4 linked regions of the Homo sapiens genome follow. The protein of the gene in region 1 purifies or fractionates together with the protein of each later gene. This does not show direct contact. Each region holds a gene or a part of one and is shown on either strand. Other genes may lie near its edges.

The links.
Region 2: the proteins of VSIG2 (region 1) and XPO5 purify together in Homo sapiens (affinity purification with mass spectrometry; 3 studies listed by BioGRID and IntAct, with this or other methods). This does not show direct contact.
Region 3: the proteins of VSIG2 (region 1) and XPO6 purify together in Homo sapiens (affinity purification with mass spectrometry; 3 studies listed by BioGRID and IntAct, with this or other methods). This does not show direct contact.
Region 4: the proteins of VSIG2 (region 1) and THADA purify together in Homo sapiens (affinity purification with mass spectrometry; 3 studies listed by BioGRID and IntAct, with this or other methods). This does not show direct contact.

The regions. Positions count from the first base shown.
Region 1 is NC_000011.10:124,749,232-124,756,327, reverse strand, and holds the start of VSIG2 (V-set and immunoglobulin domain-containing protein 2 isoform 1 precursor), read left to right. Parts: upstream 1-4,072; 5' UTR 4,073-4,190; coding exon 4,191-4,251; intron 4,252-4,747; coding exon 4,748-4,905; intron 4,906-5,406; coding exon 5,407-5,614; intron 5,615-6,461; coding exon 6,462-6,620; intron 6,621-7,096. Other genes in the region: ESAM (endothelial cell-selective adhesion molecule precursor), read left to right, coding at 1-121, 1,565-1,687, 1,988-2,114, 2,367-2,682.
Region 2 is NC_000006.12:43,559,022-43,566,045, reverse strand, and holds part of XPO5 (exportin-5), read left to right. Parts: intron 1-309; coding exon 310-386; intron 387-3,638; exon of another isoform or gene 3,639-3,699; coding exon 3,700-3,799; exon of another isoform or gene 3,800-4,646; intron 4,647-5,038; coding exon 5,039-5,122; intron 5,123-5,742; coding exon 5,743-5,868; intron 5,869-7,024. UniProt on the Homo sapiens protein: Mediates the nuclear export of proteins bearing a double-stranded RNA binding domain (dsRBD) and double-stranded RNAs (cargos). XPO5 in the nucleus binds cooperatively to the RNA and to the GTPase Ran in its active GTP-bound form.
Region 3 is NC_000016.10:28,208,944-28,216,356, reverse strand, and holds the start of XPO6 (exportin-6), read left to right. Parts: upstream 1-4,391; 5' UTR 4,392-4,988; coding exon 4,989-4,991; intron 4,992-7,234; exon of another isoform or gene 7,235-7,370; intron 7,371-7,413. UniProt on the Homo sapiens protein: Mediates the nuclear export of actin and profilin-actin complexes in somatic cells.
Region 4 is NC_000002.12:43,586,036-43,593,059, reverse strand, and holds part of THADA (tRNA (32-2'-O)-methyltransferase regulator THADA), read left to right. Parts: intron 1-169; exon of another isoform or gene 170-216; intron 217-643; 5' UTR 644-667; coding exon 668-743; intron 744-1,013; coding exon 1,014-1,108; intron 1,109-2,105; coding exon 2,106-2,236; intron 2,237-6,057; coding exon 6,058-6,206; intron 6,207-6,325; coding exon 6,326-6,358; intron 6,359-6,610; coding exon 6,611-6,659; intron 6,660-7,024. UniProt on the Homo sapiens protein: Together with methyltransferase FTSJ1, methylates the 2'-O-ribose of nucleotides at position 32 of the anticodon loop of substrate tRNAs.

The sequences.
Region 1 (7,096 bases):
GTGCCCCATGTGGGGGCAAACGTGACCCTGAGCTGCCAGTCTCCAAGGAGTAAGCCCGCTGTCCAATACCAGTGGGATCGGCAGCTTCCATCCTTCCAGACTTTCTTTGCACCAGCATTAGGTGAGGACACTACTGGAAACAGTGGACACTGTGGCTGGGGAAGGGGAAAGATGAGAGGTACCACAGGGACTGGGGTGAAAAGGGGAGCCAAGGCTGACAAGCACTGGGGAGGAGGAGGAGGATGTGGGGAGGATGTGGGGCAGAGAAAGATGCCCTGCCAGGGGCAGGTATTGTGTTAGGTGCATTCACATGTGTATACTGTTATGAAACAGGCTCTACAGCTGGAGTGTCTGTGTTCAAATTCCAGCTCTTCTAGTGACTAGCTGTGTGACTCGGTGCCTTCTTTCCTGAATTTGTAAAATGCGGATTTTACACATATCAGCTTGAACTCATTAGTGTGACTTGAACACACCAGTTATAAAAAAAAATTTTAGGGATAACTGAAACATTTTTAATATGAAGTATTCGATGATTTTAGATAGTTACGTTATTAATTTCCTAGGCGTGGCAATGCTATTGTGGTCATATGGAACGACGTACTGCTTTTTTGGAGATTTATGCTGATGTATTTACTTTAAAATATCTAAGTAAAAGAAAGAAATCAAATAAATATGGCAAAAAGTTAGCAACTGTTGGATCTAGGTTGTGGGAATATGGATTTTCATTTTGCCTCTTTCTACTTTTCACATGACCATTTTTATAATAGTAGCTTTTTCTTTTTAAAAATACTACTTATTACCTCACAGGTTTGTTGGGAAATTGTGGTAAGTTCATACACATCAAGAATCTAGAGCAGTCTTTGGCACAGAGTTAGCAGCCAATAAACATTCACTGTTTTATTTATTTATTTATTTATTTTTATTTTATTATTATTATACTTTAAGTTTTAGGGTACATGTGCACAATGTGCAGGTTAGTTACATATGTATACATGTGCCATGCTGGTGTGCTGTACCCATTAACTCTTCATTTAGCATTAGCTATATCTCCTAATGCTATCCCTCCCCCCTAAACATTCACTGTTATAATGATTAGTCCATATAGTCCTTTCAACACCCTCAGGGAGGTCATATTGTCCCCATTTTACAGATGAAGAAATGGAGACCCTCAGATATCAACTAACTTGCTTAAAGTCAGTCACATGGCCTGTTCTGGAACCCACGTTTACCAGTTCCTACCCCAGTGTTCTTTCTCTCTCATCACACTGTCTTGCCGAAATAAAAGTAAAATGGTGTTTTGGTTTCTCTGTGCTTCACTTTCTCTGTGGCCTCCTGTCGGATATCCACTGGGGGCACTGACTGAGGAGTGACAATGGAGGTTATTGCACTAGTCAGTCTGCAGCTGGGAGCCAAGCCCAGCTGTCACACCTCTCCCCCCATCAGGGAATAGACAAGCCGTGACTCCCAGAGGGTCAAAGGGGACATTCCAGAGGAGGGACAAGATTTTTTTTTTTTTTTAATGGGAAAGAGGGTCCCTGGACTGATGGCTAAATTGTGTCCACAGATGTCATCCGTGGGTCTTTAAGCCTCACCAACCTTTCGTCTTCCATGGCTGGAGTCTATGTCTGCAAGGCCCACAATGAGGTGGGCACTGCCCAATGTAATGTGACGCTGGAAGTGAGCACAGGTCAGTGAGGGGTAAGTGTGGTTAAGAAGAGTGGTCAATGGTGGGGGAGGGGTTGCAAGTGGGGAGGAGGCCTGTCTGCTGAGGCCTGTCTCTGTAGCAGGGCACGGAGCTTCCCCTGATCAAATGTTTGTACAAATGGTTGGTCAGTGACTGGTCATTTCCTGCTCAACAGCCACCCCTCTTCTTGACAGGGAAAAAGAGGGAATGTGTATGGTGGCAGATGGGGTGGGGAGAGTGGGATTGGAGAGGGGTGAGAACCCCTCAGCTGGGTGTCCTCCTCTGACACGACGCCTTTTCCAGGGCCTGGAGCTGCAGTGGTTGCTGGAGCTGTTGTGGGTACCCTGGTTGGACTGGGGTTGCTGGCTGGGCTGGTCCTCTTGTACCACCGCCGGGGCAAGGCCCTGGAGGAGCCAGCCAATGATATCAAGTAAGTGTCCCTGGTGTCTGCTGCAGCGGGGGCTCTCCCAGCTCTCCTCACAGAGGCTGGGAATTCAGGCAGCTCTCATCTATTGGGATGGGGTCAGTGGCTGAAACATCATTCCTATGGGCAGGTTTTAAGGGAGAGGGAAAGGAGTACTGAAGTGTGCAGGCAGAGGTGGTATATAAGACCAAGCAGGTAGAAACTCTCTCCTCCTTCCCCCACCCACTTCTGACCTCTTGTTATTTCTTTGATGACTAGGGAGGATGCCATTGCTCCCCGGACCCTGCCCTGGCCCAAGAGCTCAGACACAATCTCCAAGAATGGGACCCTTTCCTCTGTCACCTCCGCACGAGCCCTCCGGCCACCCCATGGCCCTCCCAGGCCTGGTGCATTGACCCCCACGCCCAGTCTCTCCAGCCAGGCCCTGCCCTCACCAAGACTGCCCACGACAGATGGGGCCCACCCTCAACCAATATCCCCCATCCCTGGTGGGGTTTCTTCCTCTGGCTTGAGCCGCATGGGTGCTGTGCCTGTGATGGTGCCTGCCCAGAGTCAAGCTGGCTCTCTGGTATGATGACCCCACCACTCATTGGCTAAAGGATTTGGGGTCTCTCCTTCCTATAAGGGTCACCTCTAGCACAGAGGCCTGAGTCATGGGAAAGAGTCACACTCCTGACCCTTAGTACTCTGCCCCCACCTCTCTTTACTGTGGGAAAACCATCTCAGTAAGACCTAAGTGTCCAGGAGACAGAAGGAGAAGAGGAAGTGGATCTGGAATTGGGAGGAGCCTCCACCCACCCCTGACTCCTCCTTATGAAGCCAGCTGCTGAAATTAGCTACTCACCAAGAGTGAGGGGCAGAGACTTCCAGTCACTGAGTCTCCCAGGCCCCCTTGATCTGTACCCCACCCCTATCTAACACCACCCTTGGCTCCCACTCCAGCTCCCTGTATTGATATAACCTGTCAGGCTGGCTTGGTTAGGTTTTACTGGGGCAGAGGATAGGGAATCTCTTATTAAAACTAACATGAAATATGTGTTGTTTTCATTTGCAAATTTAAATAAAGATACATAATGTTTGTATGAGATAAGAAACAAGTTGCCTTTTCAAACTAAGAATTCTTGAAATTGAGCTTCAGGAGGATGCAAAGTGGACCCCTTCCCAAGCTGTGTACCCAGGAGGGCTTCCCCCCACAGGCTTAGAGCAGCTCTTCTAGTGTTTAGAAGGGTCCTTGTTTGTCACGTGGAGAAGGGGAGGAGACTCTAAGCTACTCTGAACAGCAGAGGGATGGAGTTGATACGCTTTCTGCTGGAGCTTGAGTGCTCCCGGCTAGGGGGTACGTGTACCTCATCTGCTTCCTCTTCAGGGACAGGGGAGAGGAAGCTCACGTGGGCTCCTCTCCCACACCACGGAATCCTTAACAAAACACTCCTTGCCCATCTGGAAGAGATCTCTGTTGTTACTGAGGGAGAGCTGGGCATAGTATGAGGTGCAGGTCTGTGTCCAAGTTCTGCCATGTTCTTTCCTACCAAGGGTGAGGTCTCCTTTAGGTCTCAGTTTCTCTGCCCCTAAAATGGAGTGGCTCTGGAAATGGAGAGATGCTCATTTCTACAGAGACTCCTACCTCAGTAAGTGGTGAAATGAAAAGCGCTGTGGACAGGAAGGGTCTGCGGCCTGGGGCTCACACTCACAGTGAGGCTCCGAGGTGGGGACTCCCCTTGCCAGCTCTGGGGTATCAGGACGCCTTCCAAAGTCAGCTTTCCTTCCGTCTCTGCAGAAGGCCCACCCCAAGCCCAGCGCTTTTCCCAAGGCCGGACAGCTTCAGACCTTGGGGAGAAGAGGAAGGAAGGAGGAAGAAGGGACAGAGGGATTGCAGAATCGGGGCTGGAGGAGAGGAGGGAGGAGCACTTTTTTTTTTTTTTAACCTGCGGCGCCGGCCTCTCCCCTGTTTGCTCTGAGATACCAGTCTCGCTCCTGCCCAGCCCGGGCGGCTGCCCTTGGGTGCTCCCTTCCCTGCCCGACACCCAGACCGACCTTGACCGCCCACCTGGCAGGAGCAGGACAGGACGGCCGGACGCGGCCATGGCCGAGCTCCCGGGGCCCTTTCTCTGCGGGGCCCTGCTAGGCTTCCTGTGCCTGAGTGGTGAGGAGGGGCCGGGCGGGACCACGGCGAGGGCTGGGGGGCATAGGCCTGGCTTCCCCGGCTCCTCGGACCCACTCTGTCCCCGCCAGGCCAGATGAGGCTGCCGTGGGCGCCAGGGGCCCTAAGGCGCCTGAGGTGAGGCCGGAGAGGGGGTGTCCAAGGCCCGGAGGGCGTAGGAGAGAGACCCCCAAGCCGGCGAGCGAGTTGGGCCTCTCCGCGGCACAGGCCTGAACCACCCCACCGCAGGGCTAGTGTTTTCCTTTCTCTGCTAAACACACACACCCTCTTACCTGGCCCGGTTCCGGCTCTTTTACCCACAAAGACCCGGCCCCTCCCGGAAACCTCAGGTTTTGGGAAGGGAGGGGTTGGATTGAGGGGAGAGGGTTGTGCTCTGGGGAGGGAGCCCCCAGCTTCCAATATAGATGCCCGGGGGTGGGCCCGACCCTCCAGATCACTGGAATTTGGGTTCCCACCTCCCTCTGGTCCCCGGCCCCAGGGCTGGCCGTGGAGGTGAAGGTACCCACAGAGCCGCTGAGCACGCCCCTGGGGAAGACAGCCGAGCTGACCTGCACCTACAGCACGTCGGTGGGAGACAGCTTCGCCCTGGAGTGGAGCTTTGTGCAGCCTGGGAAACCCATCTCTGAGTCCCATCCAGTGAGCTGAGAGCGACTGCATGAAGCTGGGTTGGCCTGGAGGGACAGGAGCCCAGGATGAGGGCATGGGGTCGGGAGGGGGAGTTTGGGGATCAGTATGCTTGGATGAAAAGGTAAGTGGGCTCTCCCTAGATCTTTTCAGAGCTGCAGTCTGCCTGACCGTGTATCTTCCTTTCCTCTTCCATAGCTCCTATTTCCAACTCCCCTGCCTTAGTGTATCCATTGACACTAAGGTGTTGTGACTGATACCAAGATAATATGCTGCCTCTTCTGCCTCTCTCTTTGAGAGAGAGAGAGAGAGACCAATGGATCAGGTTCATTTAGCACCTGAAAGGGGGTGGTGTTTGGGGACAGAGAGACCTTTGGAGTTCCAGCTTAAGGGTATCAGCCTCCCTGGCTGATGTAAGTCAGAGGCCTCTTATACCCACTTTGATGAGGAAGGACTGTAGAGTTGATGCCAGGCAGAAACAGGCACATATGTGTGTCTTCTGCCTCTCCCCAGATCCTGTACTTCACCAATGGCCATCTGTATCCAACTGGTTCTAAGTCAAAGCGGGTCAGCCTGCTTCAGAACCCCCCCACAGTGGGGGTGGCCACACTGAAACTGACTGACGTCCACCCCTCAGATACTGGAACCTACCTCTGCCAAGTCAACAACCCACCAGATTTCTACACCAATGGGTTGGGGCTAATCAACCTTACTGTGCTGGGTAAGGCAGACTGGGGATCCACGAGCCACATACTCTTTCACATACTTGGGGCGTTTGCACTGGTCTTGCTAAATCTCTGGTTTCTGACTTTTAGCCCAAGCACACAACTGCACTGGGGGCCCCAAGTGAAAATACTCCCTTTCCAAGTCTTCTAATTCAGATGGTCATACTCCAACTCCACCCTCCACCGAGAGCATCTCCTCCATCAGAGCCTAATAACAGAGTGTGTGAGAGAAAGTCCTTCCCATACATGGGGATCTGAGCCTGCTCCCAGCAGCTCCATCATGGGGGAGGCTCTCATCGGTAGTTGGATTCTGTCCCTCCCAAGGTCAATGGCAGAGAAGGGGAGTGGCCACCAAAGGAACAAGGGCCCCTATTACTGAGCACCAACTTCGTGCTCAGAGCTTCTGTCTCACCCCAAACTAGAGCCTTTTCAGAGATGAGCAACCAGAAAAACTATCACAGAGACTGGCAGTGTTTAGATGGAAAAGAGAAGGCCTCGGATGGGTGTATTACTGCTGGATTCAACTATCCAAAGGGCTGTCATGTGGAGGAGAGATTTTAATTTCTCTTTGTGGGCCCAAAGGGCAGGAACTGAAACCAATGGGTGGAGGTTATGTTAACACACATTTTGGCTCAACATGAAGAAGAATTTTCTCTAACAATCAGAATTTCCAATAGTGGAAATCCCTCAGTTCCTGGGGATGCAGTGGTGTGTGGACCCAAGAGGACCACTGTTTGATAGGGGTATTGAAGTAGAGAATGTAGCACCTAATGGAGTTGGGAGTGGGGCTGGAAGATTGCTGAGGAACTTTCTGTTTTTTTTTTTTTTTTTTTTTTTTTGCAGTTCCCCCCAGTAATCCCTTATGCAGTCAGAGTGGACAAACCTCTGTGGGAGGCTCTACTGCACTGAGATGCAGCTCTTCCGAGGGGGCTCCTAAGCCAGTGTACAACTGGGTGCGTCTTGGAACTTTTCCTACACCTTCTCCTGGCAGCATGGTTCAAGGTAAGGGCCCAGGGCATCAGGAAGAGGGTACTGGAGACCTGGGCAAATCTGGTCTCTAAATCCCACACACCCGTATTATCCGTTCCATGACTAGGGGTATGACACAAACCACTATACCTTTCCCTGTCTCTTCCTTGGCTTCCTGTATTGTTCCCTCCTGCCTGTCTTTCTGCAGTCTGTGGCTGCATGATCCTGGGGGTATTTCTCAAGCTGAATATACTGCTGATATCCTGGAAGAGAGTAGAGGGCAGGGAGCAATCTGATGATGACCACCCATCTGCCTTGGGGAGATTTCTTTTAGGTTTCCTAAGGGTCGTGGACCACTTCCAAACTTCCTAGAGAGGAAACTGAGGCAGAGTAGCATGGACTGGCTGGAATCTTTTAACCAGTTTCTTTGGAGGAGCCTTAGTTTCTTGGCTTCCTCTTCCTGGATCCAGTTCTCTCTCCAGCCCCAGCAAACTCCTTTATCAATCCAG
Region 2 (7,024 bases), on another chromosome or scaffold:
ATCTCAGTTGTTCCGCCTGCCTCGTCCTCCCAAAGTGCTGGGATTACAGGCATGAGCCACCGCACTCGGCCTGCCGAACACATTTAAAAATGTAAGTTTATGCTTTTTCACTAAACTGATAGTTTTGAGAAAAAATATGTAGTTTATCCAGATTTGGTTTTAAAGAGTTGGGCTTCTTTCTAGTGTTTCACTAAACCCTGGGGTATATAAGAAATTATGAAGTCAATATATTTGATTATATACTTACAGAAGATGTCGGTACTTTGAAGTATAGTTTATATGACTATGTTTCCCTAAAATTGGGTCTAGGGCAAGTTGGAAGACCGGAAGCCCTTGATGGTCTTATTTGGAGATGTTGCCATGCATTATATACTCTCCGCCGCACAGTGAGTATCTTTACTTTTCAGTGTGTTTTCTAATTTCTTTGTCATTTTTCTATCTTATTTGGATTTATCTGAAGTTCTTTTTTTTTTTTTTATTTTGAGATGGATCTCGCTCTGTCACCCAGGCTGGAGTGCAGTGGCGCGATCTTGGCTCACCACAACCTCCGTCTCCTGGGATCAAGCGATTCTCCTGCCTCAGCCTCCCGAGTAGCTGGGATTACAGGCGCACCACCATGCCTGGCTAATTTTTCTATTTTTAGTAGAGACAGGGTTTTGCCGTGCTGACCGCTCTGGTCTCAAACTCTTGACCTCAGGTGGTCTACCTGCCTCAGCCTCCCAAAGTGCTGGGATTACAGGAGTGAGCCCCTGTGCCCACCTGAAGTTCTTACTTAAATGCTAGCTGTCAATCGACAGTGTTTTTGGATAAGAAAATGAGGCATTGGCCAGATGTGGTGGCTCACACCTGTAATTCCAGCACTTTGGGAGTCCAAGGCAAGTGGATCACTTGAGGCCAGGAGTTTGAGACCAGCCTGGCCAACACGGTGAAACCCCATCTCTACTAAAATACAAAAATTAGCCAGACCTGGTGGCGCACGCCTGTAATCCCAGCTACTCAGGAGGCTGAGGCAGGAGAGTATCTTGAACCTGGGAGGCAGAGGTTGCTGTGAGCTGAGATCACACCACTCTACTCCAGACTGGGCAACAAAGTGAGACTCTGTCTCAAAAAAAAAAAAAAAAGAGAGAAAATGAGGCAGTCATGGCTGAATGTGCTAGCTAACATTTGTAACCTCAGCACCTGGGGAGGCCAAGGCGGGAGGATTGATTGAGTCAGGAGTTTGAGACCAACCTGAGCAACATGGCAAGAGTCCATCTCTACAAAAAAATACAGAAATTAGTCGGGTGTGGTGGTATGTGTACTTGTAGTCCCAGCTACTCAGAAGGCTGAGGTGGGAGGGTCACTAGAGCTGGGAAGTCCAGGCAATCGTGAACCATGATCATGCCACTACACTCCAGCCTGGGCAACAGACTGAGACCTTGTCTCAAAAAAATAGTTTTTAAAAGTTTATAAAGTTAAAAAGTTACAGTAAGCTAAAGTTAATTCATTATTGAAGAAAGGAAGTTTTTTTTTTTTTGAGATGGAGTTTCGCTCTTATTGCCCAGGCTGGGGTGCAATGATGCGATCTCAGCTCACTGCAACCTCTGCCTCCCGGGTTCAAGCGATTCTCCTGCCTCACCCTCCCAGGAAGCTGGGATTACAGGCATGCACCACCATGGCCAGCTAATTTTGTATTTTTAGTAGAAACAGGGTTTCTCCCTGTTGGTCAGGCTGGTCTTGAATTCCTGATCTCAGGTGATCCACCCACCTCAGCCTCCCAAAGTACTGGGATTATAGGCATGAGCCACCGTGCCCGGCTGGAAAATTTTTTAAATAAATTTAGCGGGCCAGGTACGCTGGGTCATGCTTGTGATCACAGCACTTTAGGAGGCCAAGGCAGATGGACCACCTGAGGTCAGGAGTTCAAGACCAGCCTGGCCAACATGGTGAAACCCCATCTCTACTAAAAGTACAAAAATTAGCCGGGCGTGGTGGTGCATGTGTGTATTCTTAGCTACTTGGGAGGCTGAGGCAGGAGATCGCTTGAACCTGGGAGGCGAAAGTTGCAGTGAGCCAGGATTGTGCCCCTGCACTCCAGCTTAGGCAACAGAGTGAGACTCCATCTCTAAATAAATAAATAAGTTTAGTTTAGCCTAAGGGTACAGAATTTATAAAGTCTACAGTAGGGTCCAGTAATGTCCTAGGCTTCCACATTCACTCACCACTCACTCTGGACCCACCCAGTACAGTTTTCTGTCCTGCAGTCATTCATGGTAAGTGCCTTCTACAGGTATACCATCTTTTATCATTTATACCATATTTTTACTGTACCTTTTCTGTATTTAGATACACAAATACTTACCATTGTGTTACAGTTGCCTGCAGTATTGGCTACGGTAACATGCTATAGAGGTTTGTAGCCTAGGAGCAATAGGCTATGCTATATAGCCTAGATGTGTAATAGGCTATTCCTGTTGTGTAAGTTTGTGTAAGTACACTCTATCATGTTCAAATGGTGATAAAATCACTTAACGATGCATTTCTCAGTACACATCCCCAGTCGTTAAGTGATGCATGACTGTAAGGGCTTCCATGTACTTTCTTCCAGTTGCTCTAGAAAATACTAAAGCAAGGCCGGGCCCAATGGCTCATGCCTGTAATCCCCATATTTTGGGAGGCCAAGCCGTGAAGATTGCTTGGACCCAGAAGTTCAAGACCAGTCTGGGCAACATGGCAAGACCTCATCCCTACAAAAAATCAAAATGAAAATAAATTAGCTGCGTATGGTGGCATGCGCTTTATAGTCCCAGCTACTTGGGAGGCTGCAGTGAGAGGATCCCTTGAAGCCCATTAGTTTGAGGCTTCAGTGAGCCATATTTGAGCCACTGTACTCCAGCCTAGGTGTGACAGCGAGATCGTGTCTCAAAAAAAAAGAAAAAATATTAAAGCATTTCTTGATAACATGTTTCTTACCAGGAAGTCAGGCAGAACTATATATTATAAGTAGTTGAATCTGTTGCAACACCATCTTTTTGATACTCTTTACTTTTGGTCCCAAGGAGAAATGAAAAGGTATGAGGCACATGTGTTTTACTTAAAATCTCTTACTACCCATTCTAATACACATTTTTCATGGCTTCCTTCCCTGTAGAGACTGCAGCACTGTTTTAAGGGATCCTGTTAATTAAATGAATAACGTTTTTTGGGTAGTTACTATTTTTAGGTCCAATTCTTAGTTCCATAGACATCATGACACTCATACTAAGTGGTGTCCCGTTTCTGTTTGTGCTGTGGGTGCCATACCACAACCATGGTTCATAAAGCGGTGATTCCAACCCAGGTAGTCAAACTCCAGAGATTGCATTGGACACCATAATACCATCCTGTCCTTCAATGTTCCTAAAGCCTAGGCCTCGTTTACCCCAAGGTCCTTGCCTTTTATGTGATACTGTCCTCCTCCAGAAGACAGCTAATATAGTTGCTTTTCACACTCATAGTTATTAATTGCTGTTTGTGTGAATAGTCCTATATCATTTTAGGTCAGGTTTTGCCACCAAATAAGTTAAAAAGATTTTAAAAAATTTTTAATTTAGCAAAGCTATTGGAATTCTGCTGAATTACAGACCTAACTAAATGACTTGGAGAAATGAGACACAAAGTGATGTTTTTATTACAGCCTTTTTAATTTTGTTGGTGATATAAGGAATTCTCATCTTACAGGACTGCTGATGGAGGAGGTTTGGTAGAAAAACACTACGTCTTTCTGAAGAGGCTCTGTCAGGTGTTGTGTGCGCTGGGCAATCAGCTGTGTGCATTGCTGGTGAGCTAGTGTTTGCTTTCTGGAGAGCTTCAAGCCCATTTGGGAAGAGCATTTAGAAACTTATGTTTCAATGAGGGGTTGCAAATGTCATTGATTTTAGCCTGATGGGGCAGTGCCATACAAGTTATTGCATGATTCTATAGATTAAATTATCTTAATAGAATAGTGTTTGAGTGATCTAAATTTCTTTTAACAATAAAATAGTTATACCAACGTCAGATATCCACGTCTATTATTCCATAAAGTCAACGTTGGTTTCTTGTGAATTTTGGTACTTACAGAACCTCAATCTGCTGAGTGCTTTATGCTTTTACATTCTGTTAGCCCACGAAACATGGACTTGAATAAAGAACTCTTTTCCCAATCTAAGGGATGTATTATTGGAGCACAAAAGAAAACTTGAGTCTGATTGACCTGGAAAACCTGCCATTAGAGAAATATTTAATACTCAGTCTTATAAGTTGGAAGATAGGACATTGGAACAGACATTTGCAATTGATGTTATATCTTTTTGTGGTGGTTTAAATGGTTAGAGAGGATAGTTTCAGAGATAAGCAACCATTGAGGGGGCCAGGTGCAATGGCTCATGCCTGTAATCCCAGCATTTTGGGAGGGTGAGGTGGGCAGATCACCTGAGGTCAAGAGTTTGAGACTAGCCTGGCCAACATGGTGAAACCCTGTCTCTACTAAAAATACAAAAATTAGCCAGGCGTGGTGGTGCATGCCTGTTATCCCAGCTACTCGAGAGGCTGAGGCAGGAGAATTGCTTGAACCCTGGAGGTAGAGGTTGCAGTGAGCCGAGATCGTGCCACTGCTCTCCAGCCTGAGCAACAGAGTGAGACTCCATCTAAAAGAAAAAAAAAAGAAAAGAAACTATTGAAGGGATTAGGTAATAGGTTGGGACACAGAGATGTGAATAGGTAAGGTCTGAGGAAGTAATACAGATTTTTTTTCTTTCTGTAATTTCTGAAATGAGTGTTTTTTATTTTACTGTTTGACCACAGAATGGGTTTTAATGATGATGATTGAGTAGGCAAAGTAATGATGATGATTGAGTAGGCAAAGTAACCTATATTTTAGCCCTTGAAGTGATGCCTTTCTTTAGCCAAAAGGAAATACAAAGTCCTTTTGAAACAACATTTTTTGAGGGTTTAATTTATCTGTTTTTATTACTTCCCTGCTTTTTCCTCTCCTGCTTTTCTCGATCAACACCGTTAATATAGTGGTCTTCTCCTACAGGGTGCAGATTCTGATGTAGAAACACCATCAAACTTTGGAAAATACCTGGAATCTTTTCTTGCTTTCACAACCCATCCAAGTCAGGTAAACTTTATACAGGTAACTTCTCAAAAGTTTAGTTAGGTGAACCAATGTCAAGCACTGTGTCCTGAAATATTATTGTAGATCATGTATAAAATGTGACTCTTCAGGCCTTGGGGAATGACCGTAGTGTCATTTCATTAAGAGAATTATTGGCTCTTCTTCCTGAGCCAAACAGTGCACTTGTCTAGGTCAGCAGCTTTTCCCTTTAGGTAATATTCTGATTGTACTCAGTCACATGTGAGGTGTGTCCCAGGTGGTTTAGTACTAAAGTTATAAAGATTTTTGAAACAAAAGTCTGATTAATTGTATTATAAAATTAATTTCACTCTGTTCAAAATTGTCCTTCTAATATCACTCTGAGATTCCAGTATCCTTTTTTGCAAAGAAGAGAAAGTAGTAAAATTCAGCTCACATTCCAGGTAATTTCCTTGATCCACAGCCTGTCTTACTAACATGTGGTCCATAGTGGGTGGTCATTACTGATAAATTGCAGTAGAGACAGCTTCAAAGTATTGTACAGATTTATTTCTATGAAAAAATGTAGTTGATAACTGCTAAGTAATAATCTGGGTTATATAGAATCCAAATCCTTTGACGTTTTCTTTTTTTTTTCTCTTTAGTTTCTACGCTCTTCAACTCAGATGACTTGGGGAGCCCTCTTCAGGCATGAAATCCTGTCCCGTGATCCTTTGCTATTAGCAATAATACCAAAATATCTTCGTGCTTCCATGACTAACTTGGTCAAGGTATATAATGGGAATCTAAACATGTGGAATGTAGGTGAATACACATAATAAGACTTTGAGGCTGGGTGCGGTGGCTCACGCCTATAATCCCAGCTCTATGGAAGGCTGAGGCGGGAGGATCGCTTGAGCCCAGGAGTTGGAGACCAGCCTGTGCGACATGGCAAAACCTCGTCTCTACTAAAAATACAAAAAAATTAGCAGGGCATGTTGGTATGCACCTGTAGACCCAGCTACTGGGGAGGCTTAAGGTGGGAGGATCACCTGAGCTTGGGAAGTTGAAGCTGCATTGAGCTGAGATCGCAGCACTGCACTCCAGCCTAGGCAATGAGAGTGAGACCCTGTCTCGGGGGAAACATAAAAAAGACTGATTGGCATTATTAACAGCCCTTCTTCATCACTAAGATTCCTTTACTGGACATATTTTCTTATTCCTTAGGAAGAAATCAGTCCTTACTGGTTATTATAACTGCTCTTCCATATGAGAGTACTTAATATATCATAAGTATTGGGCTAGGTGCTAGGGCAAGAGCAGTGACCATACAATGTAATAATTGCTATTCAGGGGTTAAAAGCAGAATGCTTTGGAAGTACATAGGAGGGTTGAGTCAGGAAGATTCCAAGAGGAGGCAATATCTAAGCATTGCTTCTGGAGGCCAAGTGAGAGTTACAAAGGGAAATGAGGGGAGTGAGAGTGGAAGCAAAGATTGCTCACTACCTCAGTAGAGAGTTGCTCATGAATTCCCTGCTAAGAGCTCTTGCAGTTGACAGATTGTTAATCTCAATTTGTAACATCAGAGAATGGTGCACATTCAAGGGTCCCCTTATTTTCTTAAGGAATTTGCCTAGCACATAGCACACACTGGTGTTCTGTGTTTTTTTTTGAGACGGAGTCTCACCCTGTCACCGAGGCTGGAGTGCAGTGGCACGATCTTGGCTCACTGCAACCTCTGCCTCCTGGGTTCAAGCAATTCTCCTGCCTCAGCCTCCCAAGTAGCTGGGACTACAGGTGCCCACCACCACACTTGGCTAATTTTTTGTATTTTAGTAGAGACAGGGTTTTACTGTTTTTCCCAGGCTGGTCTCAAACTCCTGAGCTCAGGCAATCCACCCGCCTCGGCCTCCCAAAGTGCTGGGATTACAGGCGTGAGCCACCGCA
Region 3 (7,413 bases), on another chromosome or scaffold:
TGGAGTCTCACTCTGTCACCCAGGCTGGAGTGCAGTGGTGCAATCTCGGCTCACTGCAACCTCTGCCTCCTGGGTTCAAGCAATTCTCCTGCCTCAGCCTCCTGAGTAGCTGGGACTACAGGCGCCTGCCACCATGCCCAGCTAATTTTTTTTTTTTTTTTTTTTGAGATGGAGTTTTGCTCTGGTTGCCCAGGCTGGAGTGCAATGGTGCAATCTCGGCTCACCACAACATCCGCCTCCCGGGTTCAAGCGATTCTCCTGCCTCAGCTTCCCAAGTAGCTAGGATTACAGGTATGCGCCACCACACCTGGCTAATTTTTTGTATTTTTAGTAGAGACGGGGTTTCTCCATATTGGCTAGGCTGGTCTCAAACTCTCGACCTTAGGTGATCCACCCACCTCGGCCTCCCAAAGTGCTGGGATTACAGGCATGAGCCACCATGCCCAGCCTCATTTTTGTATTTTTAAGTAGAGATGGGGTTTCACCAGTTGGCCAGGCTGGTCTCAAACTGCTGACCTCAAGCGATCCATCCACCTTGGCCTCCCAAAGTGTTGGGGATTACAGGTGTGAGCCACTGTGCCCGGCCAAAAGGTGCTCTCTTTTGCTGGATTTGAACAGGGAATTTTGTGGCCCTGGCTGTTCCTGGCAACCACCTTGACAACAAGTCTGATAATGGAGAAGAGCAGAGCAAGGAAGTCCTAGAGGAATGGCCGGGCGTGGTGGCTCATGCCTGTAATCCCAGCACTTTGGGAGGCCGGGGTGGGCAGATCACTTGAGCTCAGAAGTTGGAGACTAGCCTGGGCAACACAGTGAGACATTGTCTTTGCTGAAAAAAAAAAAATCAGCTGGGCATAGTGGCGCACACCTGTAGTCCCAGCTAACTGGGAGTTTAAGGTGAGAGGCTTGCTTGAGCTTGGGAGGTCGAGACTGCAGTGAGCTGTGATTGCGCCACTGCACTCTAGCATGGAGAACAGACTGAGACCCTGTCTCAAAAAAATAAAACAAAACAAAACAAACAAACAAACAAACAAACACACACAAAACCACACACAGAAAAAAAAGAAAATCCTAGAGGAATGGATCTAGGCCTCCCATCACACCCAGCCAAAAGCTAATGAATCTCTGGAAGTCCAGTTATGTAACCCAAAGGCATACCCTTAAGTGAGTCAGTTGCATTTCTGTTATCTCATTCAATTTTACAGTAAGGAAACCAAGACTTCGAGAGTCAATAACTCAAGATACCTTAGCTAGTGAAGTTAAGAGCTGGATTCCACTCCAAATGAGTCTCAACCCAAAGCTTTCACTCATCCTACTAAACTAAGCCAAGTAAGTGACTTGGCCTCCATTCCGATTCATCAGCTTACCTACTGAGATGGCTTCTCTTGTACATGCTGTTTCTACTGCCTGGAATGTTCTATGCCCCCTCTCTTTGCCTAGCAAACTCCTGCTTCTTTAAGGCCAAAGCTTAAAGAAATGTCACTTCCTGACTTCCTCCCCATCCTAATCTGCCAGATTATTTTAGATCCCTTGGCCTTATTAGCGTGTAAACTATATTAAAGTTATATCATGTTAGTTTCAATTTTTCCTTCATTGCTCTTATCACAATAACTGATCCATTATTGTACAATATTTTACAAATAATTTGTCTTTAAATTCCATAAGGGCACACATATATTTGTTTTGCTCAGCATTGAATCCTTGAAATAGTGACTGTCACTTAGTGGACAACAATAAAGATTTGATAAAATAAATGTGCTTGAGGCTGGGCATGGTGGCTCATGCCTGTAATCCCAGAACTTTGGGAGGTCGAGGTGGGCGCATCACTTGAGGTCAGGAGGTGAGACCATCCTGGCCAACATGGCGAAACCCCGTCTCTACTAAAAATACAAAAATAAATTTAGCTGGGTGTGGTGGCAGGTGCCTGTAATCCCAGCTACTTGGGAGGCTGAGGCAGGAGAATTGCTTGAACCTGGGAGGCAGAGGTTGCAGTGAGCCGAGATTGCACCATTGTACTCCAGCCTGGGCAACAAGAGCGAAACTCCCTCTCAAGAGAAAAAAAAATAGTGCTTGATGGCCTGGCGCGGTGGCTCATGCCTGTAATCTCAGCACTTTGGGAGGACGAGGCGGGTGGATCACCTGAGGTCGGGAGTTTGAGACCAGCCTGACCAACATGGTGAAACCCCGTCTCTACTGAAAATACAAAAAATTAGTTGGGTGCGGTGGTGGGCTCCTGTAATCCCAGCTACTTGGGAGGCTGAGGCAGGAGAATTGCTTGAACCCAGGAGGCGGACGTTGCGGTGAGCCGAGATCATGCCATTGCACTCCAGCCTGGGCAACAAGACCGAAACTCTGTCTCATTAAAAAAAAAAAAAAAGTGCTTGAGGCTGGGAGTTTGAGGCTGCAGTGAGCCATGATCATGTCACTGCAACAGAGTGAGACCCTTTCTCCAAAAACAAACAAACAAACAAACAAACAAAAAACTAAAAAACCCCTGAAAGCTATTGCTTTCAGTGGTAAAGTGTTGTATCAGTGGTTCTCCAAATGTGGTATCTAGACCTGCAGCATCAGCTTCATTTGGGAGCTTGTTAGAAATGCAAATTATTCAGCCCCATCTCAAACCTACTGGATGGGAAAGTCTATGAGTGGAGCGAGTAATCTTTGTTTTAACAGTCCTTCTGGGTGAATTGATTCAGATCACACTGAGGTTTGACAGGAAAGAAAAATAGCTCAGGGAAGTCTGAGTTATGTGAAGTATGCAAAATTTGTCAGGTCCACTGAGACTTGTGTATGGGAGTTCGGGCACACTCCCACCTCCACATGCTCGGGGACAATTGTTTAAAGATATTTTGTTCCAGACTAGCTGCCTCCCCCATTTCCTTCAGGTTCCTGAAATTTGTGATACAAAGAACAATGTATAGGCAATAGCTTATGTTATTTTTTCCCCCTTTCTCATCATTCCTATTCAACCTTATGTTATGCCTCTTTTTTCCTTAGAAACCCACTTGAAGCCAGGCGGGAGGGCTCACGCCTGTAATCCCAGCACTTTGGGAGGCCGAGGCTGGCGGATCACCTGAGGTCGGGAGTTCAAGACCAGCCTGGCCACTATGGTGAAACTCCGTTTCTACTAAAAATAAAAAAAATAGCCGGGCATCATGGTGGGTGCCTGTAGTCCCAGCTACTCGAGAGGCTGAGGCAGGATAATCGTTTGAACCCGGGAGGCGGAAGTTGCAGTGAGCTGAGATTGCACCATTGCACTCCAGCCTGGGCGACAAAGCGAGACTCCGTCTCAAACAACAACAACAACAAACTACACTCTAGTCTGGGCGACAGAGCAAGACCCTGTCTTAAAAACAAACAAACAAACAAGGAAACCCCATTTGTAACTGCCACTAATTGGACTATACTTCTGGTGGGCCATCTTCAAGCTTCGGGCTTGAATAAACCCTATACTTAAATACTATTTTCTCAATCTCGTTATTTAAGGTTGACAAGGGCCATTGGGTTACATAGATTTGCTCCAATCTATGTAGTAGGCACACCCGCGGGCTCAACCTCAGCTGTTTGGGATAGTTTCCTGACTGTTTCTTAAAATTAGCACTTTCAGCCTGGCTGGATGACTCATACCTGTAATCCCAGCACTTTGGAAGGCTGAGGCAGGAAAGCTGCTTGAGCCCAGGAGTTCCAGACCAGCCCAAGCATCAAAAGGAGGCCTCACCTCTGCAAAAAATAAAAAAATTTAGCTGGGCATGGTGGCGCACCAGGAGGTTGAGGCTGCAGTGAGCCATGATTGTGTTACCGCACTCCAGCCTGGGCAACAGAGCAAGAACCTGTCCCCAAAAATAAAACAAAATAAAGATGAGCACTTTCACGAGTAAAGTGGATTGGAGGATGGGAACAGGAATCCAACACATTCTCTGCCTCTCTCAGCACCTTGGCTATCGAAGTTACGTTTATCTCCCCTGTCCTAGCATCCACAGCAGGGCCTGGAATATAGTCGGGCAAGAGTGTGTGGACTGCATGAATGTAAGCTCCATAGGGCCGCGTGTCGTCACGCTGCCAGCTCGATGCTCCGCCCGTAAAAGGCACTCACTAAAATTTTAGCGGAATGAATGGGCGAAAAAAGCGAAAGGGAAACCACGCCTTTACTAAAATGGCAGCCCGGGCTCCCTTTACCAAGATGGCTGCCGGCCCGCGTGGACGCACGGGCGGTGGGCGCAGGGGGCGGGGCAAGAGAGGGCGTGGTAAGAAGGCGGGGCCAGTGGGAGCCGTCAGGTGCAGCCCCGCCCTCCGCCCTCCGCCCGCTCCCCCCGCTCGCCCCGCTCGATTCCGGATTGGTCCGGTTCCAGCGCCGCAGCCCGGCGGCCGCGCTGTGGGGCCGCCCGGCGCTCGCCACTTCCGGCGCGTTGGGGCTGTTGGTCGGGGGCGGCCGCGCGGTACTAGCGGGCGGCTCCAGGGCGGGCGCGCGCAAGGATGCTCTAGGGGGCGGCGGCAGTGGCCGTGTGGGTTGAGGCTGCGAGGACAGCGCGGGCCCCCGGGCCTCTCCCCTGAGCCGGCCGCCTGGGCCGCGCGGTCGAGGCCTGTCAGCCTCCGCCCGTTCAGCCTCGGGGCCGGGGCCGCCGCCACCTCTGCCCGCGGAGGCCGGGGAGCCCCTGCCTGGGCCCGCAGCCTCCCCCGCGGGGGTCGGGCCCGGGCGGGGGTCCCGAGCAGCTGCCCTCCTCGCCGGCATCCGAGCCTCATTTCCTGCTTTTTCAGTTTCCTTGGGGAGGGGCGGGTGGGTCTGGATGAATTGTCTCGGGGTCCCCCGATGAGGCGACCCGGGCGGCCCTGCCCTTTTTAGAGGGTCCCCTCGGGGCCCGGTGGGGAAGGGGTTGTCTTTGCATGGGTGGGGGACTTCCCGAGTCTGCCGGGACCATGACCTGAACTGTGCGAGCGGGACGTGTCCGAAGCCCAAGAACCAGCTCATCTGAGCCGCCCCCTCCCCGGCCAGCATGGTAAGTGGAATTGGAGCCCCCTTCCCTCCTGGGGTGCCCTACCGGAAGGGTGGGAATGGGCCCCGGGGCTGCTGAGCCATCGCTGCTCTCCCCATGGCGGGGAGAGGCGCGTGCGGAGCCTGGCCGGTGACACATGCGTGCAGAGTGTGCAGCCCCGGCCCTGCGCTCCCATCCCCCCAGGGATGATGGCTCAGGCCTGGGAGGGCCCTGGGAGCGCAGCAGGCACAACCCTTGCATCTGGTGTTTGCCTCCTGCAGCTCCTCCGGATAATAACTATCGTTTATTGAGGGCTTACTACTTGCCAAGGCCCTGCGCGAAGTGATTGACAGTGCAGTAGTATTTAATGATCACACCAGCCCTCTGTTCGGAAGTGGGGAGACTGAGGCACGGAGCAATTAATTCCCCAGCTCAAGGTCAAGCGACTTTTTAACAGTGTTAAGATTTGAACCTAGGCATCTGACTTTGAACCTAGGCATCTCTAATACACTTAGAGAGCTGGGTGATTGTAGGAGAAACATCTCATCTAGCTGTAGGTTTATATATGAGGAAACAGAGCGATTTACAGAGGTCACTTGCACAGGTGATGGCAAAGTCAGGAATGGTCGTGATCTTTTGACACTGAGGCTGCTATTCTACATGCTCTGATCTCTGCTGAAGCTACCTTCCACGTTTTCTAGACCGATACTTTCAATACTCCCCTAAATGTGTGTACTCACATCTCTTTGTGTATCCACATCTCCACGTTTTCTAGACCGATACTTTCAATACTCCCCTAAATGTGTGTACCCACATCTCTTTGTTAAGCATTTGCCTTTTTGCTCTTGTAATTATTTCTGAGCCTTATCTGTCTATTGCGGTATACACAGCTCCTTCAAAGACCAAATTGTTTGAACCCTTATCTGCTCCAGCTCCTGGCACATAGTAAGCCCTTGGTAAGTACTGGATCACCTAGCCTGTGGTTGAGCACCTCGAGGAGTGGAGCTGTTCTCCTCAGTTTCACCCATTTTACCCCTGCCAAGTTAGTGGTATAATAGAGAAAGGGACATAGCTGCATCTTTTGTGATACAGACCTTAAGGCCTGTGGAATTTTCGAAACATTCAAGGGGCCTGTGGGTAGTGTGTAGGTCCTGAGATATGGAGCTTACAACCAGCTGGGTAAAGTACACCATTAATGCTGAGCAGCACCGTACAGTATATGCTATACGTATAGTGTATGTGTTTTATTTTTATTTGTTTTGAGACAGGGTCTTGCTTTGTTTCCTAGGCTGGAGTGCAGTGGCACGTTCATGGCTCACTGCAGCCTCGACCTCCTGGGCTCAAGCAGTCCTCCCACCTTAGCCTCCCAAGTAGCTGGGGCTGCAGGCAAGTGCCACCATGCCTGGCTAATTTTTTGTGGAGATGAGGTCTCACCACGTTCCCCAGGCTGGTCTTGAACCTGAGCTCAAGTGATCCGTCCTCCTCAGCCTCCCAAAGTGCTGGGATTACAGGCGTGAGCCACCGTGCACAGCTGAGTCTATGTATTTTAACATATATATTACACAGTATGAATTGTGGCAAATCAGTTAAGCTCTCAGTTCCAATTTCCTCAACTATGAAATTTGGGGATAGGATTTCTCTAAAGAGTAATCTAGAGGTATGAGGTATAACATTTAGTGGCTAATGAAAGTAGCACTCATTCCTTCCTTCATTTATTCTTTCAGTAATGCTTTTTTTTTTTTTTTTTTTGAGATGGAGTTCAGCTGTTGTTGCCCAGGCTGGAGTGCAGTGGTGCAGTCTCAGCTCACGGCAACTTCTGCCTCCCGGGTTCAAGTGATTCTCCTGCCTCAGCCTCCCGAGTAGCTGGGATTATAGGCATGCGCCACCATGCCCGGCTAAATTTTGTATTTTTAGTAGAGATGGGGTTTCACCATGTTGGTCAGGCTGGTCTTGAATTCCTGACCTCAGGTGATCCACCCGCCTCGGCCTCCCAAAGTGCTGAGATTACATGCATGAGCCATCGCGCCCGGCCTCAATATACTTAAGTTTTGTTTTTTAATTGTAGTAAAATATACATAATTAAAATTAGCCATTTTAACCATTTTTAAGTGTACAGTTTAGTGAAATTAAGAACATTCACATTGTTGTGCAACGATCACCACCATATATCTCCAAAGGTTTTTTCCCAAAACAACCTGTACCCGTCTTTTTTCAGTCTCTCCCCTGCCCTACTTTAGTTTCTATTTCTATGAATTTGACTACTTTAGGTAGCTCATGTAAGTGGAGTCATGAAGTATTTGGCCTGTTGTGACTGCCTTATTTCACATGGCACAGTGTTCTCAAGCTTCATCCGTGTGGTGGCGTGTGTCAGAGCTTCCTTCCTTTTGAAAGCTGAATTCCATTGTGAGTATGTGCTGCATTTCATATATCCTTTCATCCTTCGGTG
Region 4 (7,024 bases), on another chromosome or scaffold:
ACATTTCCCTAGCAACTTCTTTCCAGATGGCATGGTACTATTAGTGTGTAGTTGTGTAGTCTCTGAGTTGGGTTGTTTAGCCTGTTATGAACCCGTTGATTTGTTAAGTATCGATAAAAGCAAACTCAAGAGAATAGCATTAAAAAAATATTTTTTTTCATTTTTGCAGAAATCAGGACACGGTAGTACCTCCTCTTAGTCTAATGAGTCACTGAGGTTAGTTTGAAGTATTTTATCTTTGGAAAAACTATCCCAGTTTTTTTGTGTGTATGTTCACTAAAAGGAAAGTTTGCTGTATTTTAAAATACAAAGACTGAGTCATAGTAGGTAAAATAACTTCAGTCAGTAATAAGCTTCAGCTTAAAACATTTTTCTTCTTCAAATCAGAAATTCTTAGACAGTGATTCTCATTCTGGAGCAGTTTTGCTCCCCAGGGGACACTTCACAGTGTTTGGAGACATATTTTGGTTGTCAGAACTTGGGAGGGAGGAGGGTGCCACTGGCATCTAGTGGGTAGAGATGGGGATGCATGAAACATAATGCATAGGATGATACTGTTCAACAAAGAATGAACCCAGCCAAAAATCATAGTGCTGAGGTTGAGAAACCTTACATTAATGCCTTAAAGTCTTCTTTCTTGCAGTGACTACTATTAATTCTATTTAAAATGGGTGTAAAGAAGAAGAAAGAAATGCAAGTTGCTGCGCTGACCATTTGCCATCAGGACCTTGAAACTTTGAAATGTAGGTGACTTCTGGTTTCCCTTATTATATTTTTTTCTAGTTTGCAAGCAGAGTATTTTAATGACTGGGACCCCTAGCATATAATATTCAAATTCTTTATATTTTTCCTTATGTTTTGGATGTAAAACAATTTTCTTAAAATTCTGTCTTCAGACTATGTTCCACCTATTGCTATGGTTTATAATTAAAAAATTTTGTAGAATGCACAACAAAGGCAAAGTTAACTCACTGTTAAATCATTGAAAATTTTTTTTTGTATATGTTATATAGCTTTTGCTGATGTGGAAGGGAAAAATCTAGCTTCTTTGCTGTTACATTGTGTGCAACTCACGGATGGAGTGTCACAAATCCATTATATTAAACAGGTAAGTCTGAATTGATATTCATGGATGCATCTTTAAGAGTATCATGCTATTAAGGATTTAAAAAAAATCACTGACAGTTTTTGGTCCCTAATTATTGCATATCAGTTTATCATTAGCAAATAAGTATTTTTTTTTTTCTGTTTATTGTATAATATCCTTGTATTCAAAGCAGCAATAGAAGCCATATTCAGACTTCTATCATAATTGAACTGTAAACAGATAAGGTAGAAGATAATGTGCATACCTCTTTTGTGGAGATAAATTTTAAAATATATGAATCTTCAAAACTTTTTAGCAGACACATTTAAAAGTTAATTTAAAATATAAAGATTATACTTATTAGTATTTCAGTATTAGGATTTACCATTTGAGCACACATAGTTTTTTTTTTTGGAAAGCAAGTAAATGTATTACTGGTTTTTTAATAGTGCTACAGCTGTTCTTTACTGTAAGCCATTAACAGGTCTGTGATTCTCTGTGGAGGTGGGTCTGGAGGGTAAAGAGGGAGGTGGGGACATGAGTTTAAAAAGTTAATAAATAGTGAAATAGGTGTTTAAATCAGTATCCTTGACAGTGGAGTATGGAAAACATTTCACGTAATTGACACTTTGTTTTATTTATTTTTTTGAGATAGGGTCTCACTCTCTTACCCAGGCTGGAGTGCACTGGTGTGATCTTGGCTCAACCACAGCCTCAACCTCCTGGGCTCAAGCAATCCTCCTGCCTCAGCCCCCTGAGTAGCTGGGACTACAGGCATGTGCCACCATGCCTGGCTAATTTTTGTATTTTTTTGTAGAGACAGGGTTTCACCATGTTGCCCGAGCTTGTCTCGAACTCTCCTGGGCTCAAGCGATCTGCCCACCTCAGCCTCCCAAAGTGTTGGGATTACAGGGGTGAGCCACTGTACCCAGCAATTGAGACTTCAAAGAGTATCTGTAACCATGTTACTTTGCTATATTTGATATTATAAAAATTACTTCAATGTTTTGTATTATAGATTGTGCCTCTGCTGGAGAAAGCAGATAAAAATGGCATGTGTGATCCCACTATTCAAAGTTGTTTGGATATCTTAGCAGGCATTTATCTTTCTTTGAGTCTAAAGAATCCCTTGAAGAAAGTATTGGCAAGGTAAGAAAAAAAGGAAGGGAAGTTGGGTGTTATAAATGTTGAATTTGACCAAAAGTAACTGAAGTTCCTTCCTTGGTTTGATAAAACTGAACTGATACAGATCACAAAAAGTTCATTCATATGGTTTGTTCTCTGTTTCATTGATTAGTTACAACTATTTTTTTTTTTTTTTTTTTTTTGAGACGGAGTCTAGCTCTGTCGCCCAGGCTGGAGTGCAGTGGTGCGATCTTGGCTCACTGTCAGCTCTGCCTCCCGGGTTCACGCCATTCTCCTGCCTCAGCCACCACACCCGGCTAATTTTTTGTGTTTTTAGTAGAGATGTGGTTTCACCATGATAGCCAGGATGGTCTTGATCTCCTGACCTTGTGATCCGCCTTCTCAGCCTCCCAAAGTGATGGGATTACAGGTGTGAGCCACTGCGCCCAGCCTAGTTACAACTTTTTAAAAGTATAAAAAGCCTTCTTAGGTCACATGCTTAATAAACAGGCTGTGGGCTGTAGTTTGCTTACTCCTGCCTCAATCCATTTACATTTATTGGTTATGTTTAAATGTCATCTTGCTGTTTTTTCCTCTTTTTGTCCTATCTGTTCTTGGTTTAAATATATATTTACACAGATAACACAGGAATATAGGCTTGGTATAAAAATTTCAAATGATATAGAACTATACAAAATAAAAACTAAGGCTTCCATTTCATTGTTTAGGGCTTATCTTACTTTTCTTAGTAAAGATTGTCACTTACCGTTTTGGTATTTATCTTTCTAGACCTTCTCTTTGAGGTCAGCATATGTGTGTTACATTCTACTTTTTTTATATATATCTGTAAACGAGATTATACTCTACAGAATGCTCTGTAGCTTGTTTTTTCACTAAAGAATGTCTTAGAGATATTTCCATGTCATAAAATCCTAATTGTAGTAAAAGACATATAACATAAAAACTCAGTCTTAACCTTTTTTTTTTATGAATTCTTTTTTTTTAAATTTTAATTTTCATTTCGATAGGTTTTTGGGCAACAGGTGGTACTTGGTTACATGAATAAGTGGTGGTTTCTGAGATTTTGGTGCACACATCACCTGAGCAGTGTATACTGTACCCAACAATTTGTAGTCTTTTATTTCTCACCCCCTTCCCACCCTTTCCCCTGAGTCTCCAAAGGCCATTGTATCATTCTTATGCCTTTGCATCCTCATAGATAAGCTTCCACTTATGAGTGAGAACATATGATGTTTGAGTCTTAACCATTTTTAAGTGTACATAGTTCGCTATTGTTAAGTGTATTCATATTGCAGTGCAATGATCTCTAGAACCTTGTCATCTGCTAAGCTCTGAAACTGTATACATTAAGTAACAACTCTCCATTTCCTGCTCAGCCCTTGGCAGCCACTTTCCGTTCATAAATTTGATTACTTTAGATACCTCATATTAGTGTAATATTTGTATTTATATTTTTGTGACTGACTTATTTCACTTAACATAATGTCCTTAAGGTTCATCCCTGTTATAGCATATGACAGGATTTTCTTCTCTTATAAGGCTTAATATTCTGTTGTATGCATATACTGCATTTTTTTCATCCATGCATCTTTCAATGGACATTTGGGTTGCTTCCACTGCTTGCCTGTTGTGAATAATGCTGCTATGAACATGGGTGTGCAAATATCTATTTGAGATCCTGCTTTCAGTTCTTTGGATATATACCCAGAAGTGGGATTGCTGGACCATATGGTAATACTATTTGTAATTTTTTGAGCAACTGTCATACTGTTTTCCATATGCAACATTTTACATTCCCACCAGCAGTCCTTACTTTTTCAGCTATAAATATTCTGTAATATGAATATACCAAAATTTAAATGTACCATATATATGACATGTATGTATCTATATATGGTACATATTACATGATTTATATTACATGGTATAAAGTAATTTAATCACTTCCCCATTGCAGTGATATTCTTATGTATATAATTATATATGTGTATTTCTCTGAGATAAATTCCAAGAAGTGGAATTTCTGGACCAAAAATTAGGCCTATTGAAATTCTTGGTAGATATTGTTAAATTGTACTCCCCCAGACTACCCATTGAATTAGAATGCTTGTTTCTTCTTCATATATTTCCAACATTGGATACTATCAATCTTTAAATCTTTTAAAATCTAATGAAGGAAAATGCTATCATTATAATTTGTGTATCCCAGATTACTAGTGTAATTGAACATTTTTTAATGTGTGGAATTTGACTTTTTTTATTACATATTCTTTGTACATTTTCTTGTTAGAATGTTTTCTTGATTTATAAGACTTCTCTATAGATCATATGCCAAATACATTCCTTTGTTACTTGTCTTTAACTTTCTCATGGTGTCTTGTCTTTACAAAAATTAAAATATTATTTTGGTTATCAATTCAGCTAATTTTTGTGTATGTAGATTTCTGAGTTTTATACCTTGCTATATGTGCTTTCTGTAATACAAGATTATTTAAAACATTATTTGCAGGCCTTATACTATTTTTTTTTTTTTTGCTCAACTTTTATGTCCATCTGGAATTAAGCTTTGAATGTAGTGTGAGGTAGGGATTCAATTTAGTTTTCTTTTTTATATGGGGAACCACTTACCCAAACTGTTGAATCGTCCATCTTTGCCCACATATTTGGAATGCCACCTTATTGTGTTATATGTTCACATATATACATGGGTTTGATTTCTGAGTTAGGTCCAATTATTCATACACCAACACCACACTTTTATTTACTATAGTTTGATAAAGTGTTTTAATTATATGTCAGTGTTAAGTCATCCCTCTAGTGACTCTTCTTATTCTGAATATTCCCATTTTTGAATTATTTTCTTCCAGAAAAACTTTGAACTGTCCAGTTATATTTAAAACAAAGCCAATCAGTTTTGATGTATATAAATTGAGGCAAAATTGATATGTTTAATTTACTCATTTGATAAATTTTTATTGACTGCCTACTGTGTTTCAGCACTCTTCTAGGAACTGGGGGTAGAATGAATGAAACAGTCCAGAATGGAGGTTACATTCTAAGGGGAAGATAGAAAATAGACAAAATAAATAAGTAACATTTATAGGATATTAGATGGCATGAGTGCTATCTAAAAGCGGGAAGGAAGGAAAGGGGACATAAAGGATGGGGTGAGGGTTACAATTTAAAATATTATGGTCACTTCATATAGCTTTGCTCAGACATGATAAGGTAATTGAGATTGACCTGAAAGGGATGAGGCAGTGATTGCTGGGTATATTTGAAGGAAGAGTATTTTGGATGGAGGAAACAGCAGAAGCAAAGACTGGTATGTCAGAACAGAGCAAGGCCATGTAGCTAGAGCTAAGTGAACAAAGATCAAGATGAGGTCAGGATTGTGATAGATGCCATTTTAAAAATCAAGAAAAGAAAAAAAATAAATAAAGATGAGGTCAGGAGCTAATGGTAGTGCCAGATTGTATCGGGAGGACCTTGTAGGTCACTGTAAACACTTCAACTAGTACTTTAACCGAGAAGGATATTGTTGGAGGTTTTAGTAAGAGAAGTGACATGGTGTTTTAACGGTGTCACTCTGCCTGTTCTGTTGAGAATAATCTGGGAGATGGGAGAGAAGCAAGGTGGAAGCAGGGAGACCAGATGTGCTGACAAGCCAGGAAATTCGAGTGATGGTAGTGTGTAGTTGTAGTTTTCTGGCTGTATTTTGAAGATTTAGTTCAGTATTCCCACATTTGTATGATTCTCTTCCCTCTCCACATATTCTGGGGCTATTAGATTGTCAGATTTTTAATATTTGTTTCTTTTTCTAGCTCACTAAATAGCCTGCCTGATTTTTTTCTACCTGAGGCTATGCACCGTTTTACTTCTCGTCTTCAGGAAGAATTGAATACTACTGACTTATACTCTTACAGGAAAGTTACTGACAATATTTCTTCCTGTATGGAGAACTTTAACTTGGGTAAGGCTGCACTTTTCTAGTCCTTTTTCTGGCTAACCCCTCTCATCACATCATAGTTTTTAAATGACATTGATTTTGGTCGTGAAACTCCTTACCAGTGTTCATTTTTTCCTCTACAGGTAGAGCAAGTGTTAATAATCTGCTTAAAAATGGTAAGTCCTATTATTTTATTTTGTTCCATGAGTTGATGGCTTGTATGAGTCATTTTGGAACTGGCTCTTTTAAGTTTCTTGGTAATAGGTAGAGCATTGTAGATAACTTAGGTACATCATGACCCTTCCTTTTAAATTTTTGTTTCCATATCATGATATCATTTTGGATAACAGTGATATAAAATATTTTATTTTATTGAAATTGAGCTTCACAGTTTTAAATTCTTATTTGTCATATTCTTTTTGTTTCAGTGCTTCATTTTCTGCAGAAGAGTTTAATTGAAATCCTGGAAGAAAATAGGCAAGTGCTATATGTTGGCATTTGTGTGTGCACACTTGCAGTTGTACATTATCTTTGTACAAAGAAAAATTTAAAAGTCTCAGAATGTGATCTTTTCATCCCTTTTCATTAATATTATCACTTTTATATTTTTTTTGAGATGGGGTCTTGCTGTGTCACCCAGGCTGTAGTGCAGTGGTGTGATCATAGCTCGCTGCAGCCTCAACCTCCTGGGCTCAAGTGTTTGTATCACCTCAGCTTCCCACGTAGCTGGGACTACAGGCATGCACCACCACACCCAGATAGTTTTTTTTATTTTTTTGGAGACAGAGTCTCACTATGTTGCCCAGGCTGGTCTTAAACTACTGGACTGAAGTAATGTGCCC